Regions from separate parts of the Homo sapiens genome. Here region 1 is linked to region 2. Evidence: fine-mapped expression QTL. Tissue or cell type: whole blood. Region 2 holds a variant in brackets; the other region holds the start of a gene. All regions are shown on one strand. Distances are from middle to middle.

Region 1 (10,784 bases), 130 kb after region 2:
AATCCTTCTTCATTCTCGTATGAGGGGAATGTTGGCATCTGTATTTCTGCATGGTACAGTCCTCAGCTGTTTGTTTTCTTTTCTGGCTTGCGTATTTGTAGAAGTTACCTTCATTGTAGAATTAACAACTAATCTCACATTGAGAGGTATTTCTGAGATGTTTCTTGAATGGTTTTTCAACCGTGGCAATGTTCATAGGTGGCTGGAAGTATTAGGTATTATTCCACTACCACTGCTGGGATTGACTTTTGGAATCTATGGACTCTGGGTGCCTTCTATGACTCACCACAAAGTGAGATCTCTAGGGCCTATGCAAGTCTAGCACCTGAAAACTTGTAAGGGACTGGCTCTGTGTCTTCACATCTCATCATTGAGATTTAAGGTGAATGAATCAGACAGTCAGCTGGATATTTATAAAGTTCATCCTCTGTGCCAGGAAAAGGGGACAGACAGATCAATAAGACAGACACAGTTCTAGCATTTGGGACTCTGATCTAGTGTGAAAAACAAACCTGAAACAAATGACTTCAATTGCATTCACATTAATAGTCTGTGTAATCCATATGTTAGCTGTTCCCATGCTTGAAGCAAAGACCAATTCTTCAATTCCTCTTATTCACCTTTAAGAAGTCATTTGCCCCAAAGTATATATTTTACTGAAACAGATAAGACAAATTTGATCTCACTGGAAACATTATTTCACTCCAAATCTCCTTACTTGATATATCTTCCCAAGTCTCTCATGGCCACACAGCCACAAGCCTCCTCTCTCTTTCAGCAGCTCTGCCTGACACAGAATCTCTAAACCTCTCTAGCTCCAGTCCTCCACTTCTAGATCTTTTCCTGAGTCTCTTAATCCCTTCTCTCCTTTCTTAGGTAGAGCAAATTAATTCAGTCTCAGCGGTTTCCACCTTGTATATCTATAGTTTAAAACCAACTTAACAGGCTGAGCCTGGTGGCTTACGCCTGTAATCCCAGCAGTTGGGGAGGCCGAGGCTGGTGGTTTGCTTGAGTCCAGGAATTCGAGACCAGCCTGGGGAACATGGTGAAACTCCATCTCTACAAAATAATACAAAAATTAGCCGGGTACGATGGTGCATGCCTGTAGTCCCAGCTACTAGGGAGGCTGAGGTGGAAGGATCACTTGAGCCTCAGAGGCAGAGGCTACAGTGAGCTGAGATCATGCCACCGCACTCCAGCCTGGGTGACAAAGCGAGACCCTGTCTCAAAAATAAAATTAAATTAAACCTACTTAACAAACAAGATACCTAACAATTACCAGAAATTTCTGTCATCAAAAGACAGAGGAATATTTATATGATAATTTTTATTTTCCTCACTTATCTATATGCCTCCAGTCCTCATCCCACTTGCTGCAGTGTTTCCAGCTTTTTGTAGCATCCTCCCAGTTATTCTGGGAGTTCTAAATGGATATTTTGCATGTACTCATGAAGTGCCTTCAGTTACCAGATGATATCCTCCATCTTCTTCTGTTTTTGGTTTTGTCCCCTGTGATATTTCCAACTGTTGTGGATACCTTTGCTGCCTACATAGTTGAGTGAAGGTGTCTTGGCTCTGCTTCCAGGAGCTACAGCCAAGTGCCCTCCCTCCTTTTAGATAGAGCTGCCACTTCTATAGGCCTGATGATAGTCTTGATCCCTAAAAGTGCCTGAGCAGAGTCACAGAATATGGCACCCTTGGTGTGGTGAATCACATTGTGTTCAGAACACAAAGTAGGAGAATACTTTCCCACCCCTTTTTCCCCTATAAGTGGTTGTATAAATACCAGAGGACTATTTCCTTGAATCTCATTGCCTGGTGGTATTTTTGAGAAATAAATACTATTTTTTTTCATATATTTTGATTTTATTGTAGAGCAGGAGTGATGATCAAGATATCTAACAGATGACATGGCATAGGACCAACCATTTAGAATATTTCTAAAGTATAATCCGATTAATCAGATTGGCTGTTGGTAAGCATATCTTACCATACTGGTGCATCCTGATTTAATATTATCCCTGTTTTGGAAGATCATAACATGAATCTGTGAAAGCCCTGGGTTTCAGAGGAAAGGGACCTCTGAAGGGGGAAGTCACCATGTTGTTCTTGTTCCCTAAATTATAAGAAATATTTTCTCAATACTGAAGTATTGTCATAAACAATATAGCTCAGTGGGAAATGAATGTGAGCCTCACAGTTAGATGGATTGAGGATCAAATTCCTGTTCTGCCTCCTAAGAGATCATAGATCCTGGGCGATTAATCTCTATGGCTCCACATTTCTCATCAGCAAAATGGGAATAATAATATATAATATTACATAATTATGGGGGTTCTGTAAACATTAGATGAGAAAATTATTTGTTAAGTGTTAAAAAATACTATGAATTATTATTGTACTTTGCTCTTGCGTCTAACTCATTCTTTAGAATAAGTTTGGCTTTATCCTCAGTTCTTCATGCCTAGGGATTCTAGGCAAACTCACCCAACAAATGCAATGAATGTGGCCAGTCATGTAGTAACCAGATAGAGAGTCAGGAAGTTGCATCAACTGAGTCATTAATCAGCTCATTCATTTATTTGCTTATTCTTTCATTCCTTCAGACAAAGTGCATAGTGAATGTTGAGGAATCAATGATGACAAAGAGAAGATCACTTTAGCAGCTCACAGCAAAAGCAAGAGACAGATAAAAAAAAAGGCAACAATTAGCAAGCAACGTGAGCAGTGCAGTTTTGGAGACATGAGGAGAAGGTTATTGAAATTTAACACAGAGAGCATTTATTGGACCTGGAGAAATTAAGAAAGCTTTACCAAAGAATTATCAAAGACTGTTTCTTAGGATAGATTTAGGCACATTAAGTTCTGGTATAAATGGCTCTTGGTCCCTTTGGAAATTTCAGACTAAGTGGGACATTTACTAGGACTCTTTGTAAATATGAGATCAAAACCTTAAAGCCTACACTTCCTTATTCCAGATCTCTAATAAAACACAAAGCTTTTGGGTTCAAGCTACCACAGAATTCAATTGAACAGAATTGTTTAGTTCTTTATAAATATTTTATCCTTCATGGAGGTGTGGTAGATGAATTTTAATTGGCTTGTTCTTATTACTCGCTTATTATTATTATTATTATTTAGAAAGGGTCTCACTCTGTCATCCAGGCTGGAGTGCAGTGGCAATCATGGCTCACTGCAGCCTCAACCCCCTGGACTCAAGCGATTCTCTCACCTCAGCTTCCTGAGTAGCTGGGACCACAGGTCCTGGGCGTGCCACCACACCTGGCTAATTTTTATTTTATTTTATCTTGGGTAGAGACAGGGAGGGTCACCCTATGCTGCCCAGGCTGTACTCAAAATCCTAGTCTCCAACGATCCTCCCACTTCGGCCTCCCAAAGTGCTGGGATTACAGGCATGAGCCACTGAACCCAGCCCTACTCCCTAAATTTTAATGCATCCTGAATTCTGCCCCATTTCTGAATAATCAGCAACACACAACAGTGTTGCTGTTGCTTAGATGCATGATCCCAAAGACATATTATCTTTAGTGTGTCAGGATCCTTAAATGTACCTACAGTCTCCTTAACTGGAGTTCCAAAAACACCGGAGTCAATTCTGCACATCCTTGTGTTTTCTAATTACTTAAAATTCATCTTCAGACATTTTTTTTCAGAATGACACTAGTACTTCCAGTGTTATGGTTTAAGGTTGATTTTGTTTTTCTGCAAAAGAAATAAATCAGTCTCTACATTTTTCTCTGTCTCTTTGTCCCTCGACCCCTCCTTTTTTATTTGCATTTCAGGCTTCTCTTTCTTAGTGTCTACTTTTCCCTCAGGAAATTGTGCATTCCTGCTTTTCATTTATTCTAATTGCGAAAATTCACATGGATAAGGACACAGAGACGTACACAGACACACACGTGGAGGAACAGATTTTTAACAGTCTCGGCTATTTAAAAACACAGGAGCACTTTAATAGAAACCTCACCACTCATCCATTAGTCTTCTGCCAATTTTCTGCTGTATTTAGTTCTTCGCAAAACACTTCTAGGTGTCGGGTTTGGACTCTCTTCTTTCCATGGATAATTTTCAAATCAAGCATTATTGGAAAGTGTTCTTAGACAACCTGCATTTTGCCAGTGCACTTCATCTTTGTGGCTGTGCATAGGTTACCTGTCACTGTGTGTGTGCGTGTGTGCGTGTGTGCGTGTGCGCGCGCACGCGTGTGCTGGAAAAGGCCTGAATCACTTTGGAGAGATACTCTGGTTTTAACAGTGCTTTTTCTTCTAGGTACGTCACTTCTCCTGGTTTAGGACTGTAAATCAATGCAGCTGGAGCGCTTTTGAAATTGCTTTCATTCCTTGCAGAGATTTCCAAAAGCAGGCTGGCCTGGTGGTTTGAAACAGGCTCTGAGTCAGTTTGCCTGAGTTCACATACTGGCGCCATCACTTGCCAGCTCTGTGAATTACATCCTGTTAGCCTTTCTGTGACTCAGTCTTCCCATTGATAAAATGGGGTTAAACGGATGATATCCGTGATCTTAGGTTTGTTGGAATGATTAAGTGAGATAGTGTGTAAGGAGTGCTTCGCCTGGAAAACAGTAAGGTCTTAATGCATGCCATTATTATTGTTGCACAGGAGTGATACATGACTCAATGAGGAGACACGCAAAAGTTCAAGAGGCTGCAAAAGTGGTTCAAATATTTTATTGCTGTGTTTGGCATAACTTGCTTCCATATCTGTCCAATCAGAAATTTGTTATTTGGTGTGGAAAGGACTGATGAATCTCGGCAAGGTTTCTTTCCCCAAGTAAATCGCATTTGTTCTGGAATTTGTTTTGACCTCTCCTCTAACTTCTCCCTAAATGCCCATCTCTAACCACTACGGACCTTCACCCACTGCCCTGTTCTCCTTCCAAGACATGGGAGATGACAGCTGTGGCTTCTGTTTTCACACCATGACTGCAGTTGTCTAAAAGCCCTCCCAGTTCCTAATGAAAATCCCAACTCATAATTCAGGTTTTCTGCATCTAGTAAAGATCTCAAAGCCGTTCCCTAAATTCTACAATTATTGCCTGTTTATGTTTATGGGTCCCTTTGTTCAAATGTTTATACGCTGCCTGTGGGAAATCATCTTCTGATAATTTTTCTTTCTTCCTTCACAGAAGCACAGAGATGTCTCCTGTACAGCCCATTGCTGGCTGTTAGCACACCTGATATATGCTTGTTCTCACATAGTATGTCTGTGCAGCCACAGGAGGTTTTTATGTGGAACTTCCACACCAGTGTTAAAGACAGCCATAGCCACCAAAGAGATCCTTGTAAAATACAGGATTAGGATATACCACAGGAATTAATAATTCTCAAGCCACTGCTTTAAATTGTAGCCACATTGTTTTTGTAGGGAAGTTGCTCAATTTATATACACAGAACATGAAGGGTTGCATTCTGATCAGGACACCAGTTTCATTTAAGAACCCTATACCAAAAGGTACTTAGATAACCCTCTTTAATATGCACATACTATATTGCTTTGTGCAACATATTGCTTTGAGCAACAAATGATGCTAATTTTCTTGCTAATTTGATCCTCTCTGATTATTTTCTTCAACTCCTAAAAGTCTAAGTGAATACAATGAAAGAATACCATCTGTAAAAACTGTTTTTTAACATATTTTTCCTCAGAGTCAAGAATACATGTTTTTTAAAGACATTTAATAATGATATGGGTTTATCATTCTCTATCAAAAATAATTCCATTGGACATTATGCCAATTTTCTTCTTAGGGTCCCTCGACTAAATAGTAACTTTAAAAACATACTGCTAGTTTGCTATATTTTAGTAGGTCAGCATGCACACCAAAAGTGTATTAAGGTGGACTGCTCTATTTATTGATTTGCCATGAATCTGCTAAAGGCTCAAGGCAATTGTCTGTGGAAAGGGGCGGGAGGGCCATACATGATCGAGGTCATGCGCATCTAGCCAATTTGTAAGACGATCCCGCCGCCCTAAGCCATCAGCAATCCTTAGTATAGGGGCACACTCATGCATTCCTGTCAAGTCATCTTGTGAAAGGCTGCCTGCTTCCAGCTTGGCTTGGATGTGCAACCTTAATAAAACTCACTGAGGTCTGGGAGAAAATAGCAGATCTGCAGCAGATAGGGTAGAGGAAAGGGTCTAGAATATGTACACGCAGCTGACTCAGGCAGGCTCCATGCTGAACGGTCACACAGAGAGGAAACAATAAATCTCAGCTACTATGCAATAAATATCTCAAGTTTTAACGAAGAAAAACATCATTGCAGTGAAATAAAAAATTTTAAAATTTTAGAACAAAGCTAACAAATGGCTAGTTTTCTATGATTCTTCTTCAAACGCTTTCTTTGAGGGGGAAAGAGTCAAACAAACAAGCAGTTTTACCTGAAATAAAGAACTAGTTTTAGAGGTCAGAAGAAAGGAGCAAGTTTTGCGAGAGGCACGGAAGGAGTGTGCTGGCAGTACAATGACAGTTTTCCTTTCCTTTGCTTTCCTCGCTGCCATTCTGACTCACATAGGGTGCAGCAATCAGCGCCGAAGTCCAGAAAACAGTGGGAGAAGATATAACCGGATTCAACATGGGCAATGTGCCTACACTTTCATTCTTCCAGAACACGATGGCAACTGTCGTGAGAGTACGACAGACCAGTACAACACAAACGCTCTGCAGAGAGATGCTCCACACGTGGAACCGGATTTCTCTTCCCAGAAACTTCAACATCTGGAACATGTGATGGAAAATTATACTCAGTGGCTGCAAAAAGTAAGTGATTGCTTTCAGTTTCTAATAGCACGGACCTTTTTCCTTTCTTGCACTGCAGCTAACTTAAAGTTCCTTAGGGGAGCATTTGTGTATTTACCTTTTGCTCCAGGGGGGCAGTGTTTGCAATTGCAAGACGGCTGTCTGGGTTTGGCTTCCTGGGTAAGCCAAGGTTTGGGGGCTTGCCCAAACCTATGAATGTGTGGGGGCACCCCGTTTGTGTGTCTAGCCCTGGCAAATTTTATGACATTTTTGGTTTCTCTTTTCTAAAGTTCAGCATTAAGGTTCTCTCTGTCAAAACACTACCTTAAGAAAGAAAGTATGTACCTCTTAAGCAAGTTGGTGAAAAATAAATAATAATGACAATATTAATTAATAAGATCAAATCGATTTTGCACCAGAAAATTTTGTGCCGCTGGGGTGGCAAATCATCACAAAGTATTTGTTTTTTTAACCTTTATAAAAATTAACATGAAGTGAGAGTAAATATAAAATATGATATTTGGTTGGAGAAATTGTATATTTATGTAAAGGGAACTGTTAGTTTCAGCAAGTGGTAGAATAGTAGACTGATTTCTGTTAAATATTTTTTTCTTCTGTCCTTGAGAAAAAAAATTAAAAAGATACATTGTAATGTTAACTGTCGGAAAGGGGTTGCTCGCTCACGATGAGGGCATGCTGGCTGTTGAGGAAGACATGCACCTGCAGATATGGGCTGAACGCAGCATGTAGTCTACTATATTCCTGAAATACCTCCCTTCTCAGGGCATTGTAGTTAGAGACAGTACCTGGCGAGTTTAAGTATCCATGTTATTTGATGAATGTTAATGTTGAGTATGAATGTAATCTCAATTTATAGAAATCAAATCGAATAGTTTATCCAGTTATTTATCTACAAACCATTTAAGTTTTTGTTGAAGATAAGCCTATTAAATTATGAACACACTTCTGCAATTCATTCTGTCTTTGCACTCTGTTTAATAATAGGCAGCCGAGAATAAGTATATTCAACTGACTATGCTACTAGAAGGGAGGCAATGTCTCAATTTGTGAAAAGCTTCTCTCCCTTGTTAATGGATTCACTTGGTACATGTAGATAGGTATGCAATCAGGCTTCTTTAAGTTAGTCTGTTAACCGGGCAATCCCTTTAAAAAGATAAAAGATAGGGAAAGGACAAATGCTCTATTTTGTTCCTGTGTGGTCACACTCACTTAGGTCATTGCCTGCTGAATCATGCCAAGTAATAGTTATTCTACTTTTGTCCACTAGGGACTGAACTAAGATCACTGTTATTTTATTTGACACATTAACTGGAACTTAGTAGTTCTACAGTTTCCAAAGCTGATATTGTAATCTTTCTATTACAGACTATAGGACTGTAATAGGCAATCAGTAGGTAGGCAGAAGAATAAAAAGCAAACAGAACTCTCAGGTTTTTTACAATTGTAGCTGAAATTTTATGCATTACTTTCAGTAGTAGTTTATAATAGGATGTTTGTATTTTTCTTTGGTAAAATTTATTTCCATTGTAAACAAATGATTTTGGTTGAACAGCTTGTTATTATTCTTCAGTACACCATCCGTATAGTTTTTAGTGAGAATTCAATCATTACATATTAGTCTGGATTCTTTGAGGGAACGGGAAGGAAAATTTAGTCCCAAGTTATCCTGAATGATCTATTCTACCAAAAACGTAATGTTTTGTTTGCTTAAAGCGTATAATCACAATAGTGATTCAAACATAGTAATGCATATTTCTTGTTGCTATGCAATTATTCAGCAGTGACAGGGTAAACACATAATTCTGCTGGGCTTAAATCATGCACGTGTTTCATATGTTAATTTATTTTGCAAAATAAATTTGATTCTTGTTTGCATTGTTCTTGGTCAATGATTATGGGATAGCTTTCAGATTATAGCCAAGAATAACTATTAAAATGTTCTTTGGTTACATTCACCCTTTCAAGTGTAAAAATCAAGCTGAATATATGCTGAAAACGTCCCTATTGGTATGAGTCAGAGCAATGTGGCTTGACTATTGTCAGTTTAAATTTGCATATCTTTTGTCATTGTCAATGTGATTGGTTGGAGGATCAAGAAACCAAAAAATGCATTCAGCAAAGAACTTGCTAAAGGCTTTCATAAGTTTCCCTTAATTAGGAGTTTTCTTCACTCCAAGTTCTAAACTTCATGTGATATTTTTATTCTGATAATTGAAATGGAAATCTTTTTACTGTAACCATTTGGTATGCTCAGTACTGCAATTTGTATTACTTCTATTTTGATTCCAAGTAGTTGCCATAGGAAGAAGCAACACCCTGCAGAAACTGAGGCTATCAGTGTATGTAGGTGAAATTAATTTATCCATTTATTTGGCAAAATAATTAATCAAAGCATAGTGATTATTATGCAGCTCATGGCATCGCTATCAGGAAAGGTTTTGAGGCAGAATAGATGTGTTATCAACTCTAAATGAAGCTATATGATAATTATGTTAATCCATCACCTTCCATGAAGGGAAACCTCCTTCCTCAACTTTTCTGGTCTTGCAACTGAACAGGATGAGAAGCAAGGCATGCAAGGGGGCAAATGATTTGTGGGTCACCATAAATACTGGAACTGTTATGGCACTGCTTTCTTGATGTGATGGATTTAATTCAAAGAAATCAACTTTCCATAATCACTTGTCGATTAAAATGAGGTAGGTTGATAGCATTATTGTGACATCTCAGACCAGGAAGGGTGGTGTGAATAATATGCCTAACATCATAGTTTTATTTTGTGAAACACCTGGGTGTGTTTCTGGTTTGATCTCTTCTGTAATACAGCTCTTTTTGGAATTATTAGCAAGTCATAGTAAATACCTGAGAGTGACCAGCTCTTAGATAAGTAATGATAAATACAGCTGGCCTCTGTGTCTTTGTCACTTTCTTATGATCTCTCCCTACCTCTCTATGACAGTGAAACATTTAGCCCACATCCTGTACTTTGTGAACTATTGTTTTCTGTCTCCCACATCTCAAAAAGTTCACAAAGATGTACATTTAAAATATTTAGATTTAAATATGTATAATGTTCTAAGATTTGGGGAATCCTTAGAAGATCTGTTTTGCTTTTGCCAAATGATGTCTTTTTTTGTTAAAAGTTTAAATAAATTGAGTCAATAATGCCTTGTAACAGAAAACAATAGTCTATTTGCTATACATATTTTACACTAGCTAAAATTGATGACTATTAATGGAAAATATAGTTATGAATTGCCATCCAGAATATTTTAAGAAATACAAAGATTTTACTGGACTATTTAGCTGTTTTTCTATTGACAACATTTTTTGGTTAAGGATGTCCCCTATTTGCATATTGTATTCTTTTCTTCAGAGTTAAGATTTGAAATGCTATTACCCAAAACACATTGATGATGACGATTTTTTTAAACCCATATATTACATATATATTAATCCCTATTAATATCCATTAGAATGTGACCTCCATGAGGCCAGTGACCATGTGTGTTTGTCCAATGTCATAACCTCAGTTCCCAGAAGAGTATATAACATATTTATAACAGATATGCAATAAATATGTGTTAAATGAAAAAATGAATGCATTATCTATTGCATTCTGCACTTTACTGTCTACTGTCAGCATTTTATTCGAGGTATACACCTTACCTCTTCAATAGATTGTAAGTTGTCCTATAGGCAAGGACTATAACCTATGGTTATTTTTGTCCTAATACTAGTTAAAACAATATTGGGTCCAGAGTAGGTGGTTATTAATTATTCAAATTATATTTAACCAGTAATCTAGAATCTCAAAAACTTCTCTAGTCACTCCAATTCATCTTCTTAATTATTCTTTAAGGGTCAGCTCTGTTGCCAGTTTCTCCAGGAAATCTACCCACACTCCACTTACCCTCCCAGGCTGAGTTCTCAAATGTCATCACAGTACATTGACTGTATCATGTTAATGCTGTAGTTCAAAGTT
Region 2 (10,784 bases):
TAGAAAGTCCAGTGAAATAGAATGCAAGTGGTGAAATTGAATTCGTACACAGGATTGCAGATCTTCAGAGCCTATTACTCATTTTTTTCTTATTTTTAGAAGACTAAGGCTTTAAAAGGAGGGATTAAAAAATGTGTGTGTGTGTGTGTGTGTGTGTGTGTGTGTGTGTGTAGCTGGGTAGGGACAGGAGTGGGAGAGATCATAAAAAGTATTTAGGTGTTAATTAAATTCTTTATTTTTCAGTATCACCCAGGGGATATATCTTGTATTATATGTGTGTGTGGTGTGTATTGCATGTTTGCATGAGTACATTTGTGTGTATAGGTGTGTTTTCCATTTTCCAACTTTTTTGTGTGCTCAAAATTTTGTTGTGAGTACTGTTAATCTGTGTTTTATCCTGGGATTTTGAGATGCTTATATTTATCTGTCACTTTTGTCATCTATCTTGTGGGTAATATTTGAAAGTCTCAGTTTCTGCAGATCACAGCTGGGAATTTAATAGACAGCTCTTTACTCCTTTCATTGTGAGCTGGCCGCAGACTCACTTTGTACATTGGTGTGTTTGGGAATAACAGAAAAATAAAGAAAAACCAAGGATAAAGGCAGAGGTCTAAAGACTAGGAAAATAAGCATCAAGCTCATTTTGGTGACGATTGTGAATTGGCCTAACTTTACAATGCCTACCCATTTCCCTCCGCTATTCATTCATCATCATCATTAATTTCTCTCTTCATTTGCTAAACAGATGAGTAGCAAGGGAGGCAATAGAATTAAACCCGAACAAAAAGGCCCCTTTCTCCTCAATCCTCAGTGTTCCTTCGAGAATAAAGACTTTAATGATGGGAGGTCCATTTCAATTCTCTGGAGCCAATGCATTTCTACCTCAGTAGTCACTGCTTTCGGCAAAAGGAAATGCCTGTAAAGGGGTAAAGATCCGTTAACTGACCACTTCAAAGAGAATTAACCTGCCAGAGGAAAGGGTGAATGTTTTGCAAACTTAATCTTTCCTGGGCAAAACCGCATTATGAAGTGCTGGCCAGGCACTTTCTTGCCTTCTTTGGAAAACAGGCTTTTTGTGTCCTTAACTTCACAGCTAGAGACACATATATCCTCTCCAGCACCTGATCTCTCTCCCCTGACTTGCTTGTCTGTGTTATTTCTTTGCAGAGCTGCTGCACTGTCTATCTACCTGAATCATCTTGGCTTCATCTTACAAATTAGCTGCCTAATTAGTCTTCCAGAAGTACAGATTTGATGACGATATTTTGCTACTCAAAAAGCTTTAGTGGCTTAGCTTTATGTAAACAACAAAACTTGGACTTTCTGGCTTAACCTTCAAGACTTTCTATGACTTAGCCTTATTCTACCCACCCGAACATTTTCTGCCTCCCCTCCCTGCCCCTGCATTTTTAAAAAGTCCACTTCACTTAGACCAAACTTAAACTTTGCTTCCACACAATAGTAAGTTCCTCAAGGACAGGATTTTTGTCTGTTATATTTACTGTTGTGTCTCCGACACCAACAACAGTGGCTGGCTTCTTGTAGGTGCTGGATAGACACATAAATAGAGGCTGAATTGATGGAATGAATAAACGGCCATTTTCCACATTTCCCAGACTCTGTGACTTTGCTTACTTCTTCTCTTCATGAATAAATATTCAGCCTTTGTTCAGAACCTGTTAATAAACCACCTCTCCCATTTAGGCAATATCAGATTAGCTGAAGTAAATCTCTCCCTTCTGTTAGTTCCAATAATTCTTTATATTCTCACAATTCTCAGTCACATATTTTTGTCACTTTTATCTTTCAATTATAACTGTTTAGATGCATGTCATATTTTTTTGACTAAACTTTAAGCTCTTTGGGCAGAATGCACATCTGAATTATATTTATCCCTCCCGCTATTCCCAACCACTAGTTTATAGTAATGATTCTAAGATATCATCTTGCAGGTAAAAGTCACTCAAAAAAGCACTTGGTTAAGAATTTTTTATTTTATATTGTCACTTCCTGTTTTATTAAAATATGTTGTAAAATCTTTGCGGTCAAAGATATATCATTCAGTACTCTTTTCTTGCATCACAGTCAACTTCATTTTAATGAAATAATGATGGTTTCATTAATAGTTACTGAATTATTAAATATATTGGTAATGGATTATTCTTCAGCATTTTAGGAAATAAGAAACCATTTACATCCAAACCCATAGAATCCACAACAACAAGAGAACCTTACTGTAATGGACTTTGGGGGATAATGATGTGTCAATGTAGGTTTATTGGTTGTAAGAAATGAACAATTCTGGTGTGGAATTTTGGTAGTTGGGGAGGCTATGCATGTGTGGAGCCAGGGAGTATATGCGAAATTTCTGTAACATTGTGCTCAATTTTGCTGTGAAACTAAACCTGCTCTAAAAAATAAAGCATATTTTAAAAACAAAACAAACAAACAAAAAATGCATTTACATACATACCTCTTCCTTTATACCCTGCTGCTAAGTAGTTTTAAGACATTTTTCTTCCAAACTGAAGCTAACGGGAGTTGAAGATGAGAAGGTAGGAAAATATATCTTTGCCTTTGGTTTAAAGTTCCTGTGTATCCCAGGCAATAGAACAAAATAATATTAACACTTATTTCGCTGAGGGTAATCTCATATTTATGTATTTCCAGAGTATTTACAAATAGATGTGACAGCACTATACCAATTTTTGGCACTTTTTTTTTCCACATTGCTGCTGCTTCATTTATATATTTAATTTTTTGACTATTTATACATATGAGTTCTGTATTAGTCTGTTCTCACATTGCTTTGAAGAGATACTCAAGACTGGGTAATTTATAACCAGTTCTGACTCACAGTTCTGCATGGCTGGGGAGGCCTCAGGAAACTTACAATCGTGGCAAAAGGGGAAGTAAACATGTCTTTCTTCACATGGCAGCAGGAGAGAGGAGTGAAGGGGGTAAAAGCCCCTAATAAAACCATTAGATCTCGTGAAAACTCACTCACCATCATGAGAACAGCATGGGGGAACTGCCCCCATGATCTAATCACTTCCCATGAGGTCCCTCCCCCAACATGTGGGGATTACATTTCAGATTACAAATCAAGATGAGATTAGGGTGGGGACACAGAGTATATTATTCAACCCTGACCCCTCCCAAATTTTGTCTTTCTCACATTATGCCTTCCCAACAGTTCCTCAAAGTCTTAACTCATTTCAGCATTAACCCAGAAGTCCAAGTTCATAGTCTCATCTGAGACAAGGCAAGTTCCTTCCATGTATGAGCCTATAAAATCAAAAGCAAGTTAGTTACTTCCTAGATACAATTGAGGTACAGGAATAGGGTAAATACACCCATTCCAAATGGGAGAAATTGGCCAAAACAAAGGGGCTGCAGGCCCCATGCAAGTCCAAAATCCAACAAGGCAATAATTAAATCTTAAAGCTCTGACATAATCTCCTTTGGCTCCATGTTTCACATCCAGGTCATGCTGATACAGGAGGGGGGCACTCATGCCCTTGGGCAAGTTCTTAGGGGAGAAAGGAAAAACCAAGAATAAATGAAGTGGAGAACAGTTTCCAGAATTCACAAAAAGCAGGCACATTTATCTAATAAGACATGTGCCTGCAAAATTACAGCCTTGATTCCTGACTTGGTTATTGCCCTCCAGGGCCTGCTTCTCCAGGGAAGACACATTTTTCTGCAGGCTTCTTTCCCTTTGTTCCCATCACTGAAGGCAATAATCTATGCAGAGGAATCTTGGATTTGGCCAAAGGCTCTTTTCAAGATGTATTGATTGTAATCAATTGAAGATTTCTGAAAAGAAGATATGCATGCAGCATTTAATGAGTTGACGTTTAGCTTCATGGTCTTGAAAATAAATGATAGTGAGAATTATCGGCATTAGATTGCCAAAAAAAAAAAAAAAAAAACAAAACAATAAGAAAAAAAACTGTAGAGTGTTCCATGGTTACAGGATTCTTCCTTTTTCCCTATTTTCCTTAACTTCTCTTCATGGGGGTATAATTATGTTTATTCATGCCACTGATATTTGATTACTCCTGGGTTTCAAAATGGCTATTCTTTCACAAAACTTTCCTTCTGAAAGAGGAACTATATGTATTGTTATTTTCCTTCTGAAAGAGGAACTATATGTATTGTTATTTTCCTTCTGAAAGAGGAAATATATGTATTGTTATTTTCCTTCTGAAAGAGGAACTATATGTATTGTTATTTTCCTTCTGAAAGAGGAATTATATGTATTCAGCAGGACTTTGGGAGCTCGGAGACCCTTATACGTAGGCACCTGTTTTTCCTGAGATGTTAGCAAGTATCCTTGGTGAACGAGGAACGTGCTGCTTTCTAATATACCATAAAAGAGGGTTTGTTTAGATTCTCTTTCAGGAAAAGAAGTTAGAGATTAGACATACTGAGGTTGTCCTAGCTTCGTGGAGAAAAAAAAAGTTTCTTAAAACTGCTTCCTTAAAATA[T/C]GGCACTGTCCAAATTGAATCATTGTATTACACAAGTGCTATCTAGTTTTCAAATCTAAATGTAAACAGATGGGGGTGACAAATAGATTCAAACATCCTCAAAGTATGAGTACGGAGACTTAACAACCAAATAGAGGAAAGACTGAACCTATTAGTTAACCCTAAAATTAATCCACATTCTTAATTTTTTAAATATTTAGTATTTTTACTGTTTCCATGCATTCTAGGAATTATAAAACAAAAGCCCCAACGTGAAAACAGGGCTCTAGTTCTATTTATGGTTTTTCTCACTCAAAGACAGAAAAGACTGAAAGCATCTATAAGTCCTATTTCTCTAATTCCTGGAGAGTGATAAATATTTAGCCAAACACATGATTACTCATTTGAATGTTTCAAATAGACTGATGTTTTGCCAACATAGAAACCAAATCTAGTTTTGGGTGGTCATAGTTTTACAAGTTAGTCACTCACCAATAAGCATCCATGAAAATTGAGTTTATCATTCATGTACTAATTTATTTATTCATCAACTTATTTAATAAGTATATATTTAACGCCTATTATGTGACAGGCATTGTCCTTGCTGCCTGGATACTGAATAGTCAACAGAATAAATCTGATTCCTGCCCCCCAGGGCAAGAAAACAGCCTGTTGAGGAAAACAGATATGAAACAAAACGAAAGAAATAAAATATTGTCACAGAGGGCTGAGAAATAAAAGAGCAATATATTGATGAATAAAAACATATGCCATCATACGTAGATAAATTTGGAAGCATAAACATCTGTCATCATACACACGTAGATTTAGAAGCATTACCCTCTATTCCTTCTATAAGAAAACACAGATATTTGTTACCTAGAGCAAACATTTTGTAATCTGGCCCTGCAGTGTTATAATTTACTGTTTTGCTGGCCCCCTCATTCTCTCTATAAGGTTCCATGAGTGACTTGGGCACTGGTCTTCCCTACTTTCCCACATGATCAAGGGAATTCTCATTCTACAACAAGTCCTAAAAAGTCAAATCAAACTCCACTTCGACCAGTCAAGGCTATTGTCTCCTTGACCGACTACTAAGTTTTCATGCTGAATGGTGCATGCATCTCTGCAAATTGTTCTTCTTTATTCACCACTTTATGGCCCACTTTGTCACCTGCTATTATCTGCTCACTTCCCAGATTTTGCTCCTACCAGCTTTCTTGCTAATCAGGTTTTTTTTTTTTTCCCTGTTTCTAAACATACATCTCAATGTCTGGTGTGATCTTCACACATTTCCCAGTCACCTTCCTCAGCTAAACCTGTCTACTTGGCAGACAAGCACTTTGGAACTTCATATCTACTCTTTCTCATGACACTGACATATTCTTTTTTTGGCATACAAATGTCAACAGGTAGGATCAAATGGAAAAGAGGTGTGAAAGGTTAATTCCCCAATATCAGCATCAACTATAGGAAATGTATTTGCAGAGTAACAGCTAAGCGGAACTCCTTGAATGAACAGTGCTCTGTGACAACTATTGAATGAGAACATTTCTGTCACAATGAAGACAAAGGTTGTTTCAATGTCATGGGTCACTGGGTGAAGAGCAGAGAAAGCCAGTTCTTCATGCTTATACAAGAGCCCTTCAAACATGGGAAGCCAATGTTACAGACGAGGGTTTAGCCAAAGAATGAACAGTTGTTGCCAAAAATCAAAGGATTTTTTTTGAAACCCAATTTTTGATCTTAGTTAAATCCCTGTTTGGGATACAGGACCAATATCAGTCTGTCATCATCATGCACAAAGGAAACTATAAATTATAAACGCATCTACGTAGAAAACAAATAGAATTGTTATGTACATTATTAGGGAAATCATATTATCAGTGAGTTTGCTTCCAGAATGGAGGCTGTGTAAATAAATGGATTTTACAGGATGAATCTTTATTAAAAAAAATATTGTAGATCACCTGAGGTCAGGAGTTTGAGACCAGCCTGGCCAACATGGCAAAAACCCGTTTCTACTAAAAATACAAAAAATTAGCCAGGAGTGGTGGCGTGTGTGCCTGTTGTCCCAGCTACTCGGGAAGCTGAGGCAGCAGAATCACTTGAACCTGGGAGGTGGAGGTCACAGTGAGCTGAGATGGTGCCACTGCACTCCAGCCTGGGTGACAGAGGGAGACTTAGTCTCAAAAAGATAATTGTAAAATTGTAGGGGAGAAGAGATTTTTTTTTTCTCATCCATTCATTGTTCAATTCATGACTGAGACCCTGGTAATAAAAAATTAGATTAACAAGAGAAAAGCACACAAATCTATGTAGTATAAGTTTTACTTGACATAGAAGCCTTCAGAGATGAAGACCCCTGCCAAAAAAAAAAAAAAAAAAAAAAAAAAACAGGGAAAATTGTGCAGTTTTGTGGACAATTGTGCAGAAGTATGATTAGAGGACAAAAAGTTCTGACCCAACGGTAATAAACTGGGTAAAACTTAGCAAGACCTGTTTGTTCAGATTCTTCTCTGTGTCTTCATTCCTTTTTTCTGGGTAGAGGGAGGGCTCCTCTGGAATGAGAATGATGACCTACTTTAGAGGAAGGTCAGATAATTATTTTATGGTCTGCTTCAGGGCACAATGGCAGGAGAAGGCCAAAGAGATGTCCATCCTGCTTCTGCTGTTTTTCAAATGCCAAAGTGCCATATTTTGGGAAAACATATTCTGAACTCCATTAAAATGGAAATGTTATTTGTTAGTCTAAGCTGAAAATAAAGTAAAATAAACCTCTAGACTCTTCTTTTTTTCAAAATGGCATCCTTCCAAATTCCTCCGTTTATCTCTATATTTTCTTTTCATTGATTTTTTAGAGACAGGGTCTCACTCTGACACCAAGGCTGGAGTTCAGTGACACACTCATCGCTCACTGCAGCCTCGAACTCCTAGGCTCAAGTGATTCTCCGGCTCAGCCTCCTGAGCAGCTGAGATTATAGGTGCATTCCACCATAATCATTATTTAAAGTTTTTGTAGAGACAGGGCCTCTCTATGTTGCTCAGGCTTCACTGAGATTAATTTGCAATGGGAAAGACTTCAATTAAGCAGAAAGAAGATCTTTCTTAATAAAAGATTCATAAGAATTTGCTTCATGATTTATTCATTTATACTCATCTTTTAAAAATTATTTGAGATGACTTAAAAGAGCATAAAATAAGAAAGTAAAGATAAATAAATGAAAAAAGGGTAAAGAGCAAACAAAACAGGAAACAAAGTTGAACCAGGGATAAAGGTAGTGTTCCTAAGAATGGATTGGATTCAAGTATACTAGTAGGGAAGACCCCATGTGAGAGAATAATCAGGAATGTAATCCACAGATTCTGGGAGCTCAGGAGACACAGTTGTTTGTGTACTGACATCCAAAGAGGGTTTCTGTTGTGCAAGTCTAAAAAGAAGACATAGTGTGATGGCATAAACAACATACTCAACAATATTAGTTCAATAAGAAAAATAGAAAATGTTATACATTTTATTTTGGCATGCTATATTAGTTTCTTGTTGATAGAACAACATTGCTACTATAACAAATTAATTCAAATGTAGTGGCTTTAAACAACACATATTTATTATCTAACAATTCTAGAGATAGAAAGTCTGAAATGAGTGTTAGGGTGCTAAAATCAAGGTGTTGGCAGAGCTGTGATCCTTTTGGAGGCTTTAGAGGAGAATCCATTTCTTAAATTTCCAGCTTCTAGAGTCTGGTTGCATTTCTTGCTTACTGGCCCATCACCCTGACCTCTGGTTCAGTTATTAGAGAACTCTTTCTCTCTCTGATTCTAACCCTCTGTCTTTGTTTTGCAAAGACCATGGTAGTTACACTGGGCCCGCCAGGATGATCCAGGATATTTCCCCATCTCCGGTTTTGTAAGTCCCTTTTGCTGCATAAAATAGCATATTCCAGGAATGAGGATATGGCCTTCATTGCGGGGTAGTTATTCAGCCTAGCACACATGCCTTAATGTAGGCAGATGATTGGGTGATAAAAATGTCTATGTACGCAGCTCTCTGATACTTTTCAATATACAAGGAAAATTAGGAGAGTTCATAGTATATTCACATTTTACCACCATGAAAGGAAAATCTGTTCTGGCAGTTCTAGTTTTCATTTTGATAATAAGCAGTAGGTAACTATTCTGGGTTCAAAGAGTTTATCTTCAGACCTATCTCTGTTTTCAGGGTCAAAGGATAAGGAAACACCAATAAAAGCTGCAAGTAATTTTCTATAAATTAATCTGCCTGGCAATAAAGAGTGTAATGATGGTCAAAAGCAGTAGCTCTGCTTAAACTGCTGGTCCACATGGAGATCATTGGCCTAAGAAACTCAAATCTAAAGTTTGTCAAAGTGGAAACTGAATTTACATTTTATAAGGAATTAGATAGATAGTATTAGAGAAAATACCTAACAATCAAAAACTTTTACAAATTTCTGGCAAGTTAGCTTGTTTCTGCTGGCTGAGAAGCTTGCTAGGGAGTTGAACTCTGGTGTCCTCTTCTCATAACATCTCCTATCTTTAGAAGTAATTCATTTGAAGGTCTCACATCCTTGATAACCAGGAAGTATAGCATTCACATCAGGTGCAGAGTGGGAAAGCCACTCCTGCTGACAACTACTTGCCCCTGAAAGTTGACGTCCTCTTTTGTAGTCTCATTCTTACATTAACTTGTAGGTGAAACTAACTAGGGGAGGGTTAACTTTTGGCCAAGATCTCTGAACTGGCACGTCTCAGGAGGTCATGAAGGGAGGTGCCTGGCCCCAATCATCGGAAGATCTATAGGCAGAAGATGTGCCACGTTTAGTTTCATCTGAATCTTTAGACAAATTCTTGGACAACAGGAAAAGTACCATGGGTTCTGCTATCATTATAGACACATTAATCTTAATATCCCATTAAATGATATATTAGTTTGATAAGCCTGCCATACATGATAAAATATCACAGACTGGGTGGATTAAACAATGGAAATTTGTTTTCTTGCCACTCTGGAGGCTAGAAGTCTAAGATCAGGGTGTTGGCAGAGTTGGTCTGTCTCTTTGGCATGTAGATGGTTGCCTCCTTCCCTTTGTTTCAAATCTTCTTTTCTCTGTGCATATCTGTGTCTTAATCCCTTCTCATAAGGACACTGGTAGTATCAAATTAGGGTCCACCTCAATGAATTCAATTAACCATAGTGCTTCTTTTAAACCTCTATCTCCAAATACAGCCATGTTCTGATGTACTGCAAGTTAGGACTTCAACATTGAATTTGTTATTCGTATCTTCCAGCTTCTAGTGTCTGCTTGCATTTTTGGTAGGTAAAAGGGAACATGATTCAGCCCATAATAGTAGTAAATTATCAAATAATTTAGTCATAGGTAATCACAAGTAAAGAAAGCTTTGGTAGCTGAAGTAGCTTTTGATTTTTGTGTGAGCATGGTGAACACTTCTACTTCTCTCCTTATGAGGTAGTGTATCAAATCCCCATTTTTCACCCTTGGCTCCAGTCTAGCAGAGACACTTGTACTGGTCCAAGAAATAGACCAATCAAGACTGCACGATTTTCCAAGCTGGAACTGGCTAGAGGTGAACACACTTTTATTTTATAATACACATTATCAAGACATGAAATTTCCTTTTGGGGAGAGTACTTTACAAAATGAAGTCCAAAAGATAAAATAATGGAAAGAGAAAAAGAGAGAGCAAGGGCCCTTAGCTCCTAGGTTTATCCTCTCTGAGGCGGAACCCACAGCTGTATCCGTGAAATGTTATGTTTGTCAACAAACTCCCTTTTAGGCACACCCTAGTTCAACTTACATATCTGTCATTTGCAATCGAAGCGTCCTGACCACTACTGCTGCTGATATGTGATTGAATGTATCCCTGCACCTCACCTGAACGTGTGCGTAACAGACATATCCAAATGAATTGCTCCAAGAACATAAAGAATATGTTCAAGAAGCACTACGGTTTCTACTTCCCATTTTTCCTTATCTAGGCCATTTGGCACAGCTGGTGTTTTTCAAAGGCTAAGTGCCAGACTTAATTTTCTGTCATGGTGGATTTGTAATGACAGCTCGAGTTCCATCATGGTCAAATACTAGCTTTATTGGGTACGTGGTCATTCATCATGCAAAACTCAGATGATGAGATACATTTCATGGATTTGCTGCTCCGCTGAAAGTCTTTGCTGCCATAAACTGTGAAACAGACAAAAATTACCCACACCATTATAGTTAGAGGTGGCTCAGCTCCCAGGCTGTTATTGTTTTTGCAACTATGAATTTCCTT

What was found. PIP is the estimated chance that this variant, and not a neighbour inherited with it, causes the effect.
Region 1: it holds the start of ANGPT1, and the variant in region 2 is fine-mapped to the expression of ANGPT1 in whole blood (INTERVAL, PIP above 0.99). The same link has a PIP of 0.9 or more in neutrophils.

What each region holds. Positions count from the first base shown.
Region 1 is chr8:107,493,277-107,504,060 of GRCh38, reverse strand. It overlaps ANGPT1 (angiopoietin 1), which reads left to right and starts at 6,143. Exons shown (of 9, transcript NM_001146.5): 1 at 6,143-6,799. The coding sequence starts at 6,503. RefSeq lists a silencer at 2,444-2,644.
Region 2 is chr8:107,626,001-107,636,784 of GRCh38, reverse strand. No RefSeq gene overlaps it. Among named protein-coding and RNA genes, the nearest start is that of ANGPT1, 130 kb to the right of the region's middle. The variant T/C (reference allele first, on the strand shown) is at 4,494.